3 linked regions of the Homo sapiens genome follow. The protein of the gene in region 3 purifies or fractionates together with the protein of the main gene of each other region. This does not show direct contact. Each region holds a gene or a part of one and is shown on either strand. Other genes may lie near its edges.

Region 1 (4,636 bases), on a different chromosome or scaffold from region 3:
AATCTCAGCACTTTGGGAGGCCGAGGCGGGCGGATCACGAGGTCAGGAGATCGAGACCATCCTGGCTAACACGGTGAAACCCCATCTCTACTAAAAATACAAAAAATTAGCCTGGCTCAGTGGCTCACGCCTGTAATCCCAGCACTTTGGGAGGCCGAGGCAGGTGGATCACAAGGTCAGGAGTTCGAGACCAGCCTGGCCATCATAGTGAAACACTGTCTCTACTAAAAAAACAAAAAAATTAGCTGGGTGTGGTGGCACACGCCTGTAGTCCCAGCTACTCAGGAGGCTGGGGCAGGAGAATCATTTGAACCCAGGAGGCGGAGGTTGCAGTAAGCCGAGACCATGCCATTGCACTCCAGCTAGGGTGGACAGAGTAAGACTCTGTCTCAAAAAATAAAAAAAATAGGCCGGGCACGGTGGCTCACACCTGTAATCCCAGCATTTTGGGAAGCCGAGGCGGGCGGATCACGACGTCAGGAGAACGAGACCATCCTGGCTAACACAGTGAAATCCCGTCTCTACTAAAAATAGAAAAAATTAGCCGGGCGTGCTGGTGGGTGCCTGTAGTCCCAGCTACTAGGGAGGCTGAGGCAGGAGAATGGCATGAACCCGGGAGGCGGAGCTTGCAGTAAGCTGAGATCGCGCTACTGCACTCCAGCCTGGGCAACAGAGAGAGACTCTGTCTCAAAAAAAAAGAAAAAAAAAAAAAAAAGAAATGAAAATAAAAAAGAAAGTAAAACAGAATCAATCTCAAAGGGGCAAGCAGAGGGGCCCGATCACATGACCCTCACAGAAGGGCAGGTTTTTCAGAGATCAGGGCAGCCTAAACACCAAAAGCACGGAAGAAGAACACGTGAGCATCTCACCACGCTCACATCCCTCTCGGCCTGTCTGTGTGACCACTGAGGTGGGGGCTGGTGGGAGGTGGAGAGACAGACTCTAGCGTGACACCCCCACGCTTCTCCTGCTCCCGACGGGATCTCCCCAGGCTGCTGGGAGGAGCGGCTCTCTAAGTGTATGGCCTGAGTCAGGGGGCACAGCTGGAACTGACGGGCATGGGGCAGGTGGCCTGGGACCTTGGGCGCCACCCTCCCCAGGCACACACATTCGTAATCTTAATTTTCTAGGGGTGGATGATATGCATTCTCCTTGAAAACATGATTTCTGCTAACACTATTCCAGGGTGAAACCCCATCAGACCCCAGAACAAGGAAGGCCCTGCACCCCCACTGCACTGTGCTCTGGGAGCACCACACTTCTTCCTATGGGGCCCGGGACATACTCAGCCGTAAGCCATCTCGATGGTAGCAGCTCCCGGAGTAGGCACCCTCCTGGATCTCCCGCTGCAGGCCAGCAGCCCCGCGCATCACGATCACGGGCGTGGAGGTGACCTGGACGTTCAGCCTTGGCTCCTCTGCTGATGGGCACGTGTCCTCAGGGCCAGCATCCAACGTGGAAGGAACGTGTCCTGGGCTTTCTCTGTCGCTTGCTGCATAATGCTCAGAGGACACCAAACAAACCTCAAGCGGTTCTGTTGGATCATGTCCCACACAGCTCTCCCGGAACCGTCGGCCTTGGCCAAGGTCAACACAGGTGCCGGTCAGTAGTAACAGCTCCCTGTCATCCAGGACACACGACCCCTGTTCCTGGAGACTGCCTACATCTGGATCGGAGCCCACTGCCAAGGAAGAGGGTGTCTCTCTGAGTTCAGACGTAGCACAGGAACAATTTGATGACGTTTGGTCTGTCTGGTCACTGAAAAAGAGTTCCTTGAGGTTCCAGGAAAACGAATTCACATCAACCTCCTGGGCCTCCACTGCTTCCAGGCCCCCAGGGAGGTCCGTGGCCAAGGCATAGCAGGCTGAGGAGCTGCCCGTGCAGCCACCGCACAGGTCTCTGCCTCCCAGATCGCAGGACGACACAGGAGCGGTGACAGCCTGGCACTCTGTCGGAACGAGTTCGGCGTGGGGGACATCCAGGGCTCCTGCAAGGCTCAACTGGGACAGCTGCTCCTTAATCAAGCAGGTCTGCAGCTCTTCTCGGTCGTTTTCCACTCCCAGCCACGGCTCATCTAGAGTAGGTGTCCCAAACGAGAGGCCTGCCATCCCAGAGGGGCTGGGGGCCAAGTCCTGGCTTCGCCACCACAAGCCCCATTCACTCCCATAGCAAGGGCAGTGCATCAGGAGGCTGCCCCCCGCCAGCTGACCCTTGGCCTGGGGCTTGGCCACGGCAGCCCCAGCCCAAAGGTCTGAACCGCTGGGACCACTGACTCCCATCCGCTCTAGCTGGGCCTTCTGACACAGGCCACACATGCCAGCATCACTGCCCCCATCCTCAGCTGGGACTGGAGCTTCAGAATCTTCGCAGGAAGCAAATGGCTTCACATCCACTGGTTCAGACCTGCTTTCTCCCAGAAGATCCTGTCCGGGGCTCTCTATTGCCACAGGTTCCTCTCTCCCCAAGGCAGTGATTTGCTGGTCCTTGGGCAGCGCCTGTTCACCGTGCACTGGCAGGCTTCCTTCTGGGACATTGTCCACCCTGGGGATAATGACATGGGTGACCATCATGTAGGGCCACAGATGAGTCAAAAGGAGAGATTGCACCGATTCTCCATTAGAACTAAGTACAAAGCATTTAATGCCACCAATTTATAACAAGAAAAAGACCAAATTTTGTGACCAAGTTAAAAAATAAAGCACTTAGTCTCAAATTTCTCCAAATTAAGTCCACATTTAGAAATGATTTTGCAGAGAATGCTACCAAAAGCCCAACAGTAAAGTACAGGAGAACTTGCCAATGCTTTGGTCAGCGCTCTCGCTTCATCTCAGGGCCCCCAAACCCCCCGTCAGCCGTGCAGCCTAGCCTCGGCCCCACCTGCAAGGGGAAGTCCGTGCTGCTGCCTTGAGGAGGTGTGAGAGGAAACGAGAGAGAGATTGGAGAGTCCCTGGTAAACTCCACAACAGTAAAAAAACAACTGATTGACTACAAACACCATCCGATTTCACAGCCGACTAGGGAAATGGCTCTCAGATTTGGGAAATGGCTCTCAGATGGGGCCCACACAGAAGGGGCCAGGGGCCAGGGGGCCGGGCGTGGTGGCTCACGCCTGTAATCCCAGCACTTTGGGAGGCCGAGGTGGGCAGATCACTTGAGGTCAGGAGGTTCGAGACCAGACTGGCCAACATGGCAAAGTCCTGTCTCTACTAAAAATACAAAAATTAGCCCGGTGAGGTGGCAGGCACCTATAATCCCAGCTACTTGGAGGCTGAGGCAGGAGAATGGTTTGAGCCTGGGAGGCAGAGGTTGCAGTGAGCTGAGATTGTACCAGCTCACTGGTGAGATGGGTGACAGAGTGAGACTCCGTCTCAAACACAAACAAAAAAAGAAGGGGACACGGGCCGAAAAAGAGAGAGGAGGCTGGTGAGGGCGGCTCCTAAGAGGTGGCACACAATGTCCTCCAGCATTCAGCACATGGTGACCCATGAGGAGGCTGCCACAGTCCAGACAGGATGATCACAGAGCCAAGGGACCCAGGCCTCCTGTCAGCCCAGCCACTGGCCTCCACATGACAGACTGACACTGGGCACCAGATGCACAGAATGTGACCGCACCACCTCACTCGGGGACAGACACACAGGTTAACATCAGCAACCTAATAAAGGTATACCAGAGGCTCAGAAAGAGGACAGGATCGGGCACAGTGGCCCACACCTGTAATCCCAGCACTGTGGGAGGCTGAGCCCAGGAGTTCGAGACCAGCCTGGGCAACATAGTGAGACCTCGTCTCTACAAAACATTTAAAAATTAGCCAGCGTGGTGACACACACCTGTAGTCTCAGCTACTTGGGAGGCTGAAGCGGGAACCTCGCTTGAGCACAGGAGTCTAGGCTGCAGTGAGCTGTGATCGCACCACTGCACTCCAGCCTGGGCAATGGCCAAGACCATCTCAAAAAAAAAAAGACGGAAGAGGAAGGATACAACCCAAGGGTGGGTTCCACAGAGAAAGGGATTGTGAGCCAAGTTCTGAGGAAAAGCAGTTTTCTGAGGGGAACTGAGGGGGAGGCTGAGGGTCTGCGTCTGCCTGCCTCTCTCCCTCCATGTCTCCCGCCTCTCTCCCTCCATGTCTCCCATCTCTCTCTCCCCTGTACCTCCCTCTCCCGCTCTCCATCCATCCCATGCTTGAGACAAACCCCATGCAAATGCTAGGAAACTGCACATCCTCCTGCAGGATCAGGTAAGACAGGAGGCGAATGCACACCACGAGGGTCTCACAAAGCCCCTTGCCAAAGAGTCTGGGCAACTTCTGGGGCACAGTCCAGACACAAAGCTGAGGCCCCTGGGCAGCACTGCATCTTCACCCATGCTCTTGGGGCCTTAGCGGGCTGCTGCAGCCTCAGTACCCGTTCTCTCCACAGTCACCTGGGTCCACGGCCCTTCCATCAAAACCCTTGGGCCAGATGTGTTTGGGGATTTCAGAAAAGTCATATGACCACTTGCTAGGGAGACCCCAGCAGGCTGGGGAGAGGGCTTCACGGGCATCCACTGCCCTGTGTCTGCAGCAAGGCCTCTGAACACTCAAACTGCAGAGGTCAAGGGAAAACCACAAACAGCTTCTCACGTGCTTAGGGCCAAT
Region 2 (5,389 bases), on a different chromosome or scaffold from region 3:
AGAATTCCCACTGAATAAGCATTACCTAATTAAACATAGCAACATCTAAGACCAATTTATGAAAATACTCTCCTTTTTTATGGAGGCATTGGAGCTGCTGAGAAAGCTAATGAATTTCCCAACTTTGGGATAATTAATATATAGTATTGTGTTGCTCTAGTGTAGTTGATTTTATGTGTTTAATATTTTTCATGTCAAGAGCAAAGCTGCAGACGTAAAAGATGTTTCTCTAGCCCCCTTAGCTAGAGCGAGCCACCTTTGTTAAGAGTCAGGGTGTGAAGAACAATTTCAAGATAAATTTTAGTATTTCAACCATTGTTATTAAGAAAATTAGACTTACTGAAATACTCATTTAAAAACAGACACCTTCTATAGCATTGTTTTATAGTGGAGTTATTTTTAAAAAGGGAATCCCAGAAAGAATCTATAAAAATACAAGGTTAAAACTTTAAATGTATTGAAAGATACAAATTGGTGCTTTCAAATGTCATGTAAGCTAGCCATTGTGTTTTTTTTTTTCCCTCCAGCTCCTCAATGGTAGTAATTTGTCTTTTATGATTTACCGTACATTATTTCTTGCTCACCATCCCCTTAACATATGAAAATCCTTAATTTCTACTGCCGCGCTATATGTCTTCCTGAATCTCAAGGTATAAATGTCTTAATGGATCTGATTTGTCTCCACTCTTTGCCATCTGATCCACATTCAAACCGCCTAGAAATTAGAAAGAATAGGTAATGTTCTATCTACGATTTCTTGTTCAAAATATCACGTAGTGGTGCCAATCACTTACAAAGACACCATCTCCATCTTGAAAGAGTAACTGGCATGTTAGTCTTGAAAATGCTCATTATGATATGCTCCTCACATTTCCCATCTGCTTGAGGATGGACATTTATTAGCTGAGACTTTAAAGCTGCTAAATTCACACTTTCTACTTTCATACCTTTTTAATCAGTAATGTCAAGACCATTGTTGCAAGGAGTGAATCTTACTAAACACATCCTGTTATTACTTTAAACTAGAATATGAGATTCAAGAGATTTAAAAACAATTTTAATGTAACGTTTAAAATTTTTGAACCAATTGAGAATGTCTACTTTGGAGTGAAGTTTAAGGAAACAGTCACCAGAGTTTCTAAAAATTTTTTGGAGGGAGGTACCTAATAGAAGAATCTAGACTTAGAAATGTGAACTGTGGTTAAATACCAAACCCAGTTCCGCAGTGGTCGTCTAAAGCGTCTAAAACTGGAGTGTTAAGAAAACCCAGAGACATTCATATAGTTTCAGTTATCAGAGTATTAGACCAGACTTTATTTGCAATTTGTTCAACAGAGAGATTTTATTTTGATACAGATATTAAGCATAAAGCATAGTAAGTTTTATATAATTCTATGAGTTCATTAAACAATATTATGAAATTTTCATTATGTTCGTGGGGAGTCTTTTTAACTGTTTCTACCTCATATATGAGGTCTCTTCTGTATTTTACTTTGCATACTAGCATGTGATTGCCTGCCTTAGAACTATGTAGAGGAGGGGAAATCGATATTACCTTTTAAGAAATTTTTGATTTTATGAAGTGTTTTCATTAATACTTTTTTAATGTTTGAGAAGTAAAGGGGAAAGGGTGGCAAATTACATAGGTTGCAACACAGAGTAGAAGTCACATAGTACTATTTACAGATCTGTCCTGTTTTAAGATTTGAGAATTGTGAACAGGATGGAGCAATGGTTCTCAAACTTCAGCCAGTATCAGAATTGCCTCGAGGTCTTGTTAAAATTCAGATAGCTGGACCCACCCCCAGCATTTCTGATTTTGGTCTGGAGCCTGATGATTTGCATTTCCAACAAGTTTCCAGGCGATGCTGATGCTGCCAGTCCAGGAACCACACTTTGAAAATCACTGGGTCTGATTCTCGCAGTTTGAAAGTCTCAGAGACCTTCAGAGTCTGAACGTCTTTTCAACCATGTATTTATTTACTCAGTGTAAAAAACTGATCTCTGGAGACATTTTTATAAATCTGGTGCCATGACTGGAACATTTGTGGAGAAAGGTCTCCATGGAGCGACAGGCCCTTTGGATTGGCCACCACCCCTCCTCACTCTCACCCCTGCTGGGGTCTGCACTGCTCTTCCGCAGTAGGGTGAAGGAGCTCTTTGGTTTTAGGGTGAGTTTGCTTTTGTGTACGCTGCTGCCTGGACATCAGTCTGGAAGCTGTGCATTTGTTTGGTGTGCTTAGGGTCAATCTTGATCCACATGCATGGAAGTGAGAATCCTGGAAAGAAGCCATCAGAATGCCATGAGAGTGCACCTAGCATGTATCGAGGCACTAAGTGCAGGAGTCCCTGTCCTAAGATGGCAGTGACATGGAGCATCGAAAACCACAGATAATCCTTAAATAATAAAATAATAGTTTTGTTTTTTTTTCTTCGGGGCAGAGTCTCGCTCTGTTGCCCTGGCTGGAGTACAGTGGCATGATCTCGGCTCACTGCAACCTCCGCCTCCCGGCTTCAAGTGATTCTCCTGCCTCAGCCTCCCAAGTAGTTGGGACTACAGGCATGCGCCACCACGCCCAGCTAATTTTTGTATTTTTTAGTAGAGACGGGGTTTCACCGTGTTGGCCAGGATGGTCTCCATCTCTTGACCTCATGATCTGCCCGCCTCGGGCTCCCAAAGTGTTGGGATTACAGGCATGAGCCACTGCGCCTGGCAAATGTTTTAGTTTTTATGGTTATTATTATTTTTTTTTTTTGTGGGGGAGGGTGGTGAGGGCAAAGGATTTGTTTTTCAAATTATGTGTTTCTCAGGTTAACAAAGTTATTTTAGATTCTCTGCCATGCCAGCAGGTGTTAGAGAGAGCCTGAAGTGTTACATATGGCAGAAAATAAATGTCTCTGATTACTTTGCTACCTTTAAAAAAATCTATATGTGTTTGCAAAACAGCCTAGGGGGATCTACCACCTACACAGCATGAATTATTCATAAGTCATAGGTGCACATGTATGAGCAAGTTATTTTTGAGAAAGAAACTGCCTATAATATAATAAACCTGTCAGGTCTTTGGGTATTGTTTAATTTGTGTGTTGTTGCTGTTTTATCTGGACTGCATCTTGGGGGGTACTGGGCTCTGCTTCTGGTTTTTAGTTTGCCTTTGAATTTACTGAGCTACTAGAAAGACAAAAAAAAGCTATTTTTATGGTAATAGAATACAGAATGACTTAGGTGTAAAAGTACACGTGAAGACCATCGTAGAATATACAGCTTTGGAGTTTTCTTAAGACACAGTCCTTCCTACTGAAAAGGCTTGCTCACCTTTGGAGAGGATTGTTTATATTTTCAGCCTGGGTTCCTTTATGCAGTCCCAACTTAGAGGGGAGCTTCGGTTTATTTACACTTTGCTTTGCACGATAACTTGTATGCGAAGACCTCTTTATATCTTTCAGTAGGTCAGAGGGCTCTTTGTCCTGGTTGAAGTCCCAAAGTGTCAGTGCAGCTGAGAATGTTTCTCAGCCTCCCCCTTTACAGAGGAAGGGTCCTGGATTTTCATAAATCCAGACCATGCCTGCTTCCTATAAATCCATGTATATGACATTGTACTGTATCTGATTTCTGTGCCAGTCATCTGACCTGATTCTTTAAACCCCATAAAGGTACTGGCTATATGTAGTAGTTGTATCCTAGGTAAATATGGTGATTAAAATACTTCTCTTCTAAATTATAAAGATAATGAGTTTTGCATTTTATTAAAGGGTCCTGTTATTAGTGACACAGGATTTTTTTTTAATGCTTCATACATATAGTTCTTATCTAAACTTGTTCAGCTAACTTCATAGATCAGTTACTTAGCAAATTCATACTGAGTCTTATTTTGGGAAGTCTTCCTGAGGGAAGCTGTACAAAACTGAGGTGGTCAGGTTCATCTCTTCAAAGTACCAGTTATACAGCCATCTAAATAGGCATAACTTATGGCAAAATTATAACAATTTTTTTTCTTTGCAGTAAATGATACCTCATCTAAGAGGCTCTAATACCTAAAGAGTTTATCCTTAAAAGTAAAAGTGACTTTGTACCATAAAATAACCCCAAAGCCACTCTCTAGGGTTTTTATTTTCTTCTTTCTTTGTCTTTATCTTTTCTAACTTAGTTTTGGAATTACGTTAGCTACTTTGGTTCCATAGAACAAGTTTTCAACTTGGGGTCTACAGTTCCTACAGTGTGCTCATTGTCTCAGTGAAGTTCTTTTGTTTTCAAAGATTCATGGTAACAAAATGTATTTTACTGCTACAACTAAAATGTATTTATAATAAAATGCCTTTTTAATAATTTGGAGATGTGTTTATTATGTGTGAACTATAATTCTCTGCTTCCTTCTGCCCTTAAGGTCAAAGGTCTGACTGAAGTTAAGCACAGCCCTTTGATTTTATTCCTAATAGTAAATGGTAAAACGAATGTAACTGAGAACTCAGTGTGAATTTGTAAAGTTCTAACTCTACTTTCCAGACATTTGTGACTTGGCTTAAATCCCCTAACTTCAGCAGTAATGCTTTTAAGACTTAAACGTGTTACCTGAAAGTTTAAAGATCTCCAGTGGTCAGTGAGAAAATAAGCCCTTTTCAAACAGTCATTCAACAAATATCTTACAAATTTAAGAAAATTATCCTGAATTACTCTTAACAAGTCACTTAGTTGTTAATGCGGCCCAGAATTTATTTGAGAACTCATAAACCTAGTTTGTAGTGATATATTATGTAGGTATAATCATGCACTTCACAGTAATGCGTGCCAAACATTAATTCAACAATCCAAAAAAAAAAAAAAATGCTGGTTGTGCAGAAAATTGCCCTGAGTCAAGGTCTTGTTTTTCTTGGGGAAATAATTCTTTGCATCTGCCATGATGTGATTTTGAGAAGCATTAGCAGGTCACAGAAGGCTTTGTGTGCCCTGGCTATTTTATTTTTAACATCCTATTAATGTGGCACCATAAATCTAGCTTGAATGTACTGTGCTTCAAGTTTGTAAATGTAAGTAGATGGGACGGTCAGCCTTTCCTAAGGACAATGTACCATTTGTACTCATTGCGGTGAATCCATTTTAAGCTAGGTATCTCGCTTTGAGATGATTTGATATGACAATCAAATCTGGACTTAAGAAATAAAAACTTCTCTCCATATAAATCAAATGGATTTGGGGGACTCCTTGAGCTGTTCCCTGCTCTAGATGAAATAACCCCAAGGCTCCACTGTCACTGGGAAAATGCAGATGTGACTGCCGCAGGTGTTAGCCCTATGCCATATTGATGCTATTTGAAGCATTTTTCTGAGAATGGTATTGGTATGAAAGTTCGTGTGAAAATGTAATTGATAAAACAATCACTTCCTTTCATCA
Region 3 (4,636 bases):
CGGCTCTGGCGGCTGCGTGGCGGGGTGCTGCGTTCCTGCCCCGTGGACTTAGGGGAGCACCACGCGCTGCAGTTCACCGACCTGGCCTTCAAGCAGGCCCGGGACGGCTGCCCGGAGCCCTCGGCTGCCATGCTGTGAGTCCCTGCCCTTCCCCACGGCCTGCCCCGGCATGGGGGCCCTGGTGCCTGGGCCTCCCCTTCCCTGAGGGCCTCACCTTCCCTGCCGCCTCCTCGGGCAGCTTCGTGTGCAGCCGCAGTGGCCACATCTTGGAGATTGACTGTCAGCGCATGGTCGTGCGGCATGCCCGCCGCCTGCTCCCCACACGGACTCCAGGCGGTCCCCACCCACAGAAGCAGACCTTCAGCTCAGGTAAGAGGGCGCCCACCACGTGGCCAGGGTGGCAGGGACACCGAGGCACTGACGCCTCCCTGCCCCCAGGCCCCGGCATTGCCATCAGCAGCCTCAGCGTCTCCCCGGCCATGTGTGCTGTGGGCTCTGAGGACGGCTTCTTGCGGCTCTGGCCCCTGGACTTCTCCTCGGTGCTCCTGGAGGCAGGTGATGCTGTGGGCACGCTCTCCCAACTCCGGGAGAGCCTCGCCTGGATGCTGGGGCGGGGAAGGCCCAGTCCCCGGGGCTCTGCTGTCAGCCGCCCTGGCTCCTGGCTGCACAGGGTGCCACGGGGCCAAGTGGCATATCCAGAGCCCTGGGGCGGCTGATGCCAGGGCGGCCCGCGGGGCAGCCTCACGGAAGGGCCCGGTGGGACGTGGGTAGTGTGTGAAGCCCCTCAGCCTGGGTCCCGCCTAGCCTAAGAGTGGTGGCCTCGAGGGAGCTGCATCTTGCAGCCGTGTGGAGCCTGGGACTTTGAGCAGCAGGGAGTGCATTTGCTGGGGTGTCGGGGACCCGAAGCCTGAGCATGCGGCTCACCCCGGGGTGGCCCTGGAGGCCCCTGACCCCACCCCACCCACAGAGCACGAGGGCCCCGTCAGCTCAGTCTGTGTCAGCCCCGATGGCCTCCGTGTGCTGTCTGCCACCTCCTCGGGCCACCTGGGCTTCCTGGACACGCTGTCCCGGGTGTACCACATGCTGGCTCGCTCCCACACCGCCCCGGTGTTGGCCCTCGCCATGGAGCAGAGGCGGGGACAGCTGGCCACCGTGTCCCAGGACCGTACCGTCCGCATCTGGGACCTGGCCACCCTGCAGCAGGTGGGGTTTGGCAGGGGCAGCACGGCAGGGAGGGCCGGGAGGTCCTGAAGCTGGGGTTTGTCAGCGGGGGTGAGAGGGGCCTATAGGGACCTGGACTTTCCAGCCTGTGTCGGCCCCATGGGTTTGGGCCGCCTGGAGAGCCCCTGGGCCCTTGAGATCCCTGCCCTCCCCTCAGCACGGCCCCTGTCCCACAGCTATACGACTTCACATCATCAGAGGACGCCCCGTGCGCTGTCACCTTCCACCCCACAAGGCCAACCTTTTTCTGTGGCTTTAGCAGTGGGGCCGTGCGCTCCTTCAGCCTGGAGGCCGCTGAGGTCCTGGTGGAACACACGTAAGTGCCCAGCTGGCCACCAGCCCCACGGAGACCCCACGGTGGAAGCTGGGGTGGCCAGGTGGGGGTCATGTGCAGGATGGCCAGTGCTGGCTGGAGCCCCACCCTTTGCTGCCCCATGGGGACTTCCATGGCCAGGCTGGTTGGCTGGAGGTCGAGGGAACCCATGGTACCTGGGCTTCGGGGCTAGGGCCAGCGGGGTCCCTGTGTGTGCTGCAGGTGCCACCGAGGAGCTGTCACCGGCCTGACCGCCACCCCTGACGGCCGCCTGCTCTTCAGCTCCTGCTCCCAGGGCTCCCTGGCCCAGTACAGCTGTGCGGACCCCCAGTGGCATGTCCTCCGAGTGGCAGGTTGGGCCCCCTGCAGCCACTCTGGGGGACTCCTCAGGGCGGGGGAGGCCTGGATCTGGTGCAGGCCCACACCTGGACACACATGCCGGTTTCCTGGTGCACCGACTGGGTCCTGTGGGGGGGCGTGGCCGCCTCAGTAACCTTGTCAAGGCCCTGAGGAGACTGTGGTTTAGCGTTCACTGGACCCCAAGGCCAGAGGTCAGCTCGGGTCTGTGCCCAGGAGGCGGCAGGCAGCCCAAGCTCCAGGTCAGCAGCTGGAGTCAGACCCAGGCATGGGCACCTGCCCTGTCCTGCGGCCACCATAACTTGGGCCCCCTGAGTGGTCACTTATGACTACTGCTGGCCCACGGGGACTCCCAGCTCCCCTGGCAGCGCCTGGCGCCCACTGGCACCTTGGCAATCCTCTGCCGGTGTGATGCGTCTGTGCTCCGGGGCTGGTGTTTCCCGAAAGTGGGGGCAGGGGCGGCGGCCTCCTCGGGCCCTGGCCACGCGCACCCCGGCACTCCCCACCCAGCTGACCCCTGCCCCGTGTGGCCACAGCGGACATGGTATGCCCGGATGCCCCCGCGAGCCCCAGCGCCCTGGCAGTCAGCAGGGATGGCCGCCTGCTGGCCTTTGTGGGACCCTCCAGGTGCACAGTGACAGTCATGGGCTCGGCCTCCCTTGATGAGGTGAGTCCGCAGCCCTCCTGGGTCCAGGGAGACTGGGCCATGAGAGGCTGGCTGCAGGGGCAGGAGGGAGGTCACGGCCACTCGGGAGCAGGACCCAGGCCCTGTCCCGCCTCCTGTCGCAGAGTACACATCAGCCATGTGGGGCCCACGTGCGGCCAGGTTCCTGTGCAGGGCAGGTGCTGCCTGGGTGCCGAGTGCGTGTCCCCGGGACCTCCCTCCCGAGCCTGACCCTGGGTGGCACCGGCTCTGCCCAGGGGCCCTGACTGTCGGCCACTTACCACTACCCCCAGCTGCTGCGAGTTGACATCGGCACTCTGGACCTGGCCAGCAGCCGCCTGGACTCAGCCATGGCTGTGTGCTTTGGCCCTGCAGCTCTGGGCCACCTGCTGGTGTCCACCTCGTCCAACAGAGTCGTGGTGCTGGATGCTGTGTCGGGCCGCATCATCCGGGAGGTGAGCCTCAGGGCTGTGGCCCGCCGACCTGGCCCTCCCTGTGCTGTCCAGGCCTGGCCTCTGTGCCTGCAGCCTCTCCAGCTGGGTGGGGGGCCGTCGCCACACCCACAACGAAGGGAGGCCCCAGGCTGCTGGCCACTCTCCTGAGACACGGCATTTCCCAAGAGCACTGTGTTCCAGCTGCCCGGTGTCCACCCTGAGCCCTGCCCCTCCTTGACGCTCAGTGAGGACGCCCGCTTCCTGCTGATTGCCGCCGGCCGGACCATCAAGGTGTGGGACTACGCCACACAGGCCAGCCCAGGCCCCCAGGTGTGTGCGTGGGGAGGCAGGTGGCTTTGGCGGTCAGGAGCCTCCTCAGGTGGCCCTGGAGACCCCTGCAGGTGTGGGTGGGGGCAGGGAGAGCAGAAGGTGAGGGGTGAGAGTGACCCCCCAAGGATCCTCTGTGCCTCCGGGGCCTCACACTGTGTGGGGCTCACCGTCCCTGGGGACTGGGCACACGGCAGCATCCATGCCCCGCCTCGGGGTCCTGCATGTGACGCCGCTACCCCTAGGTGTACATCGGCCACTCGGAACCCGTGCAGGCTGTGGCCTTCTCTCCTGACCAGCAGCAGGTCCTCAGCGCAGGGGACGCCGTCTTCCTCTGGGATGTCCTGGCCCCTACTGAGAGGCAAGTGCCTACTCTCAGCTGTGTCTGCCTAGGCCCCCCAGGCCCTCCTGAAACCCTCTCTCCTCCCTCTCCAGCGACCAAAGCTTCCCCGGGGCCCCCCCAGCCTGCAAGACAGGTGAGTGGCTGTGCTCAGCTGGGGTGCAGGTGCTGCGCTGACTCTGGGGCCCGTCCTGTGTCTGCCTAGTGGCCCTTCCTCTTCCTTCCCAAACATCACAGGGCTGCTTCTTCCCCAGGCCCGGGCGCAGGACCGCTGGAGGACGCAGCGTCCAGGGCCAGCGAGCTCCCCCGGCAGCAGGTCCCCAAGCCATGTCAGGCATCTCCACCACGGCTGGGCGTCTGTGCCAGGCCTCCCGAAGGTGGCGATGGTGAGCAGCAGGGGTCCTGGAGGAGTGGGGGGATTCGGGGGTCTGAGAGGGCACAGGCCCAGTGGCAGCAGGTACTCACGCACGTCCAGCTCTGGGGTGCAGGTGCCATCGCTGCTCATCAGGTGGAACACAGTGGGGTCGGGGTGGGGGCAGCTTTTCCTCTCCTCCTTAGCCTCATCAGGTGGAACACGGTGGGGTCGGGATGGGGGCAGCTTTTCCTCTCCCCCTTGGCCCCAGGCACCTTGTCCCCGTCAGATGAGGAAGGACCCTGTGAGGAGAGCTGTGACCCCGAGGGGCTTGGGCAGGCCTCAGGCCCACCTGTGCTCACGGAGGAGGAGGCTGGCAGGGCTGGAGACGGGGCCTGGGCTGCGGCAGTGGGCTCCTGGGGGCTTGCCCTGCCTCCCCGTTCCCCCGGCCAACCCCGTGAGCAGTGGAGGGCAGGGCAGGGACGCTGGTGCCGGTGCAGGGGCCTGAGGACGGTCGGTGAGTCCCCCGTGTGACGAGGCAAGGTCACCTGCAGTGGGACACGGTTTGCCTGCGTCTGTGGCTCCGGCCTGTGCCCCGCCGTGCAGTTCTCACTGTGTGGTAGACCAG

What was found. Proteins that work in one complex are often made in the same cells at the same time.
Region 1: the proteins of WDR90 (region 3) and PASK purify together in Homo sapiens (affinity purification with mass spectrometry; one large-scale study listed by BioGRID and IntAct). This does not show direct contact.
Region 2: the proteins of WDR90 (region 3) and HELZ purify together in Homo sapiens (affinity purification with mass spectrometry; one large-scale study listed by BioGRID and IntAct). This does not show direct contact.

What each region holds. Positions count from the first base shown.
Region 1 is NC_000002.12:241,124,911-241,129,546, forward strand, and holds part of PASK (PAS domain-containing serine/threonine-protein kinase), read right to left. Parts: intron 2,542-4,636; coding exon 1,286-2,541; intron 1-1,285. UniProt on the Homo sapiens protein: Serine/threonine-protein kinase involved in energy homeostasis and protein translation. Phosphorylates EEF1A1, GYS1, PDX1 and RPS6.
Region 2 is NC_000017.11:67,069,382-67,074,770, reverse strand, and holds the end of HELZ (probable helicase with zinc finger domain), read left to right. Parts: 3' UTR 1-4,327; downstream 4,328-5,389. UniProt on the Homo sapiens protein: May act as a helicase that plays a role in RNA metabolism in multiple tissues and organs within the developing embryo.
Region 3 is NC_000016.10:655,335-659,970, forward strand, and holds part of WDR90 (WD repeat-containing protein 90), read left to right. Parts: coding exon 1-134; intron 135-238; coding exon 239-369; intron 370-438; coding exon 439-555; intron 556-967; coding exon 968-1,203; intron 1,204-1,397; coding exon 1,398-1,537; intron 1,538-1,756; coding exon 1,757-1,887; intron 1,888-2,427; coding exon 2,428-2,558; intron 2,559-2,848; coding exon 2,849-3,010; intron 3,011-3,175; coding exon of another isoform or gene 3,176-3,190; coding exon 3,191-3,319; intron 3,320-3,561; coding exon 3,562-3,677; coding exon of another isoform or gene 3,678-3,751; coding exon 3,752-3,792; intron 3,793-3,910; coding exon 3,911-4,042; intron 4,043-4,279; coding exon of another isoform or gene 4,280-4,525; intron 4,526-4,636. UniProt on the Homo sapiens protein: Microtubule-binding protein that plays a crucial role in ensuring inner core protein localization within the centriole core, as well as in maintaining the microtubule wall integrity and the overall centriole roundness and stability.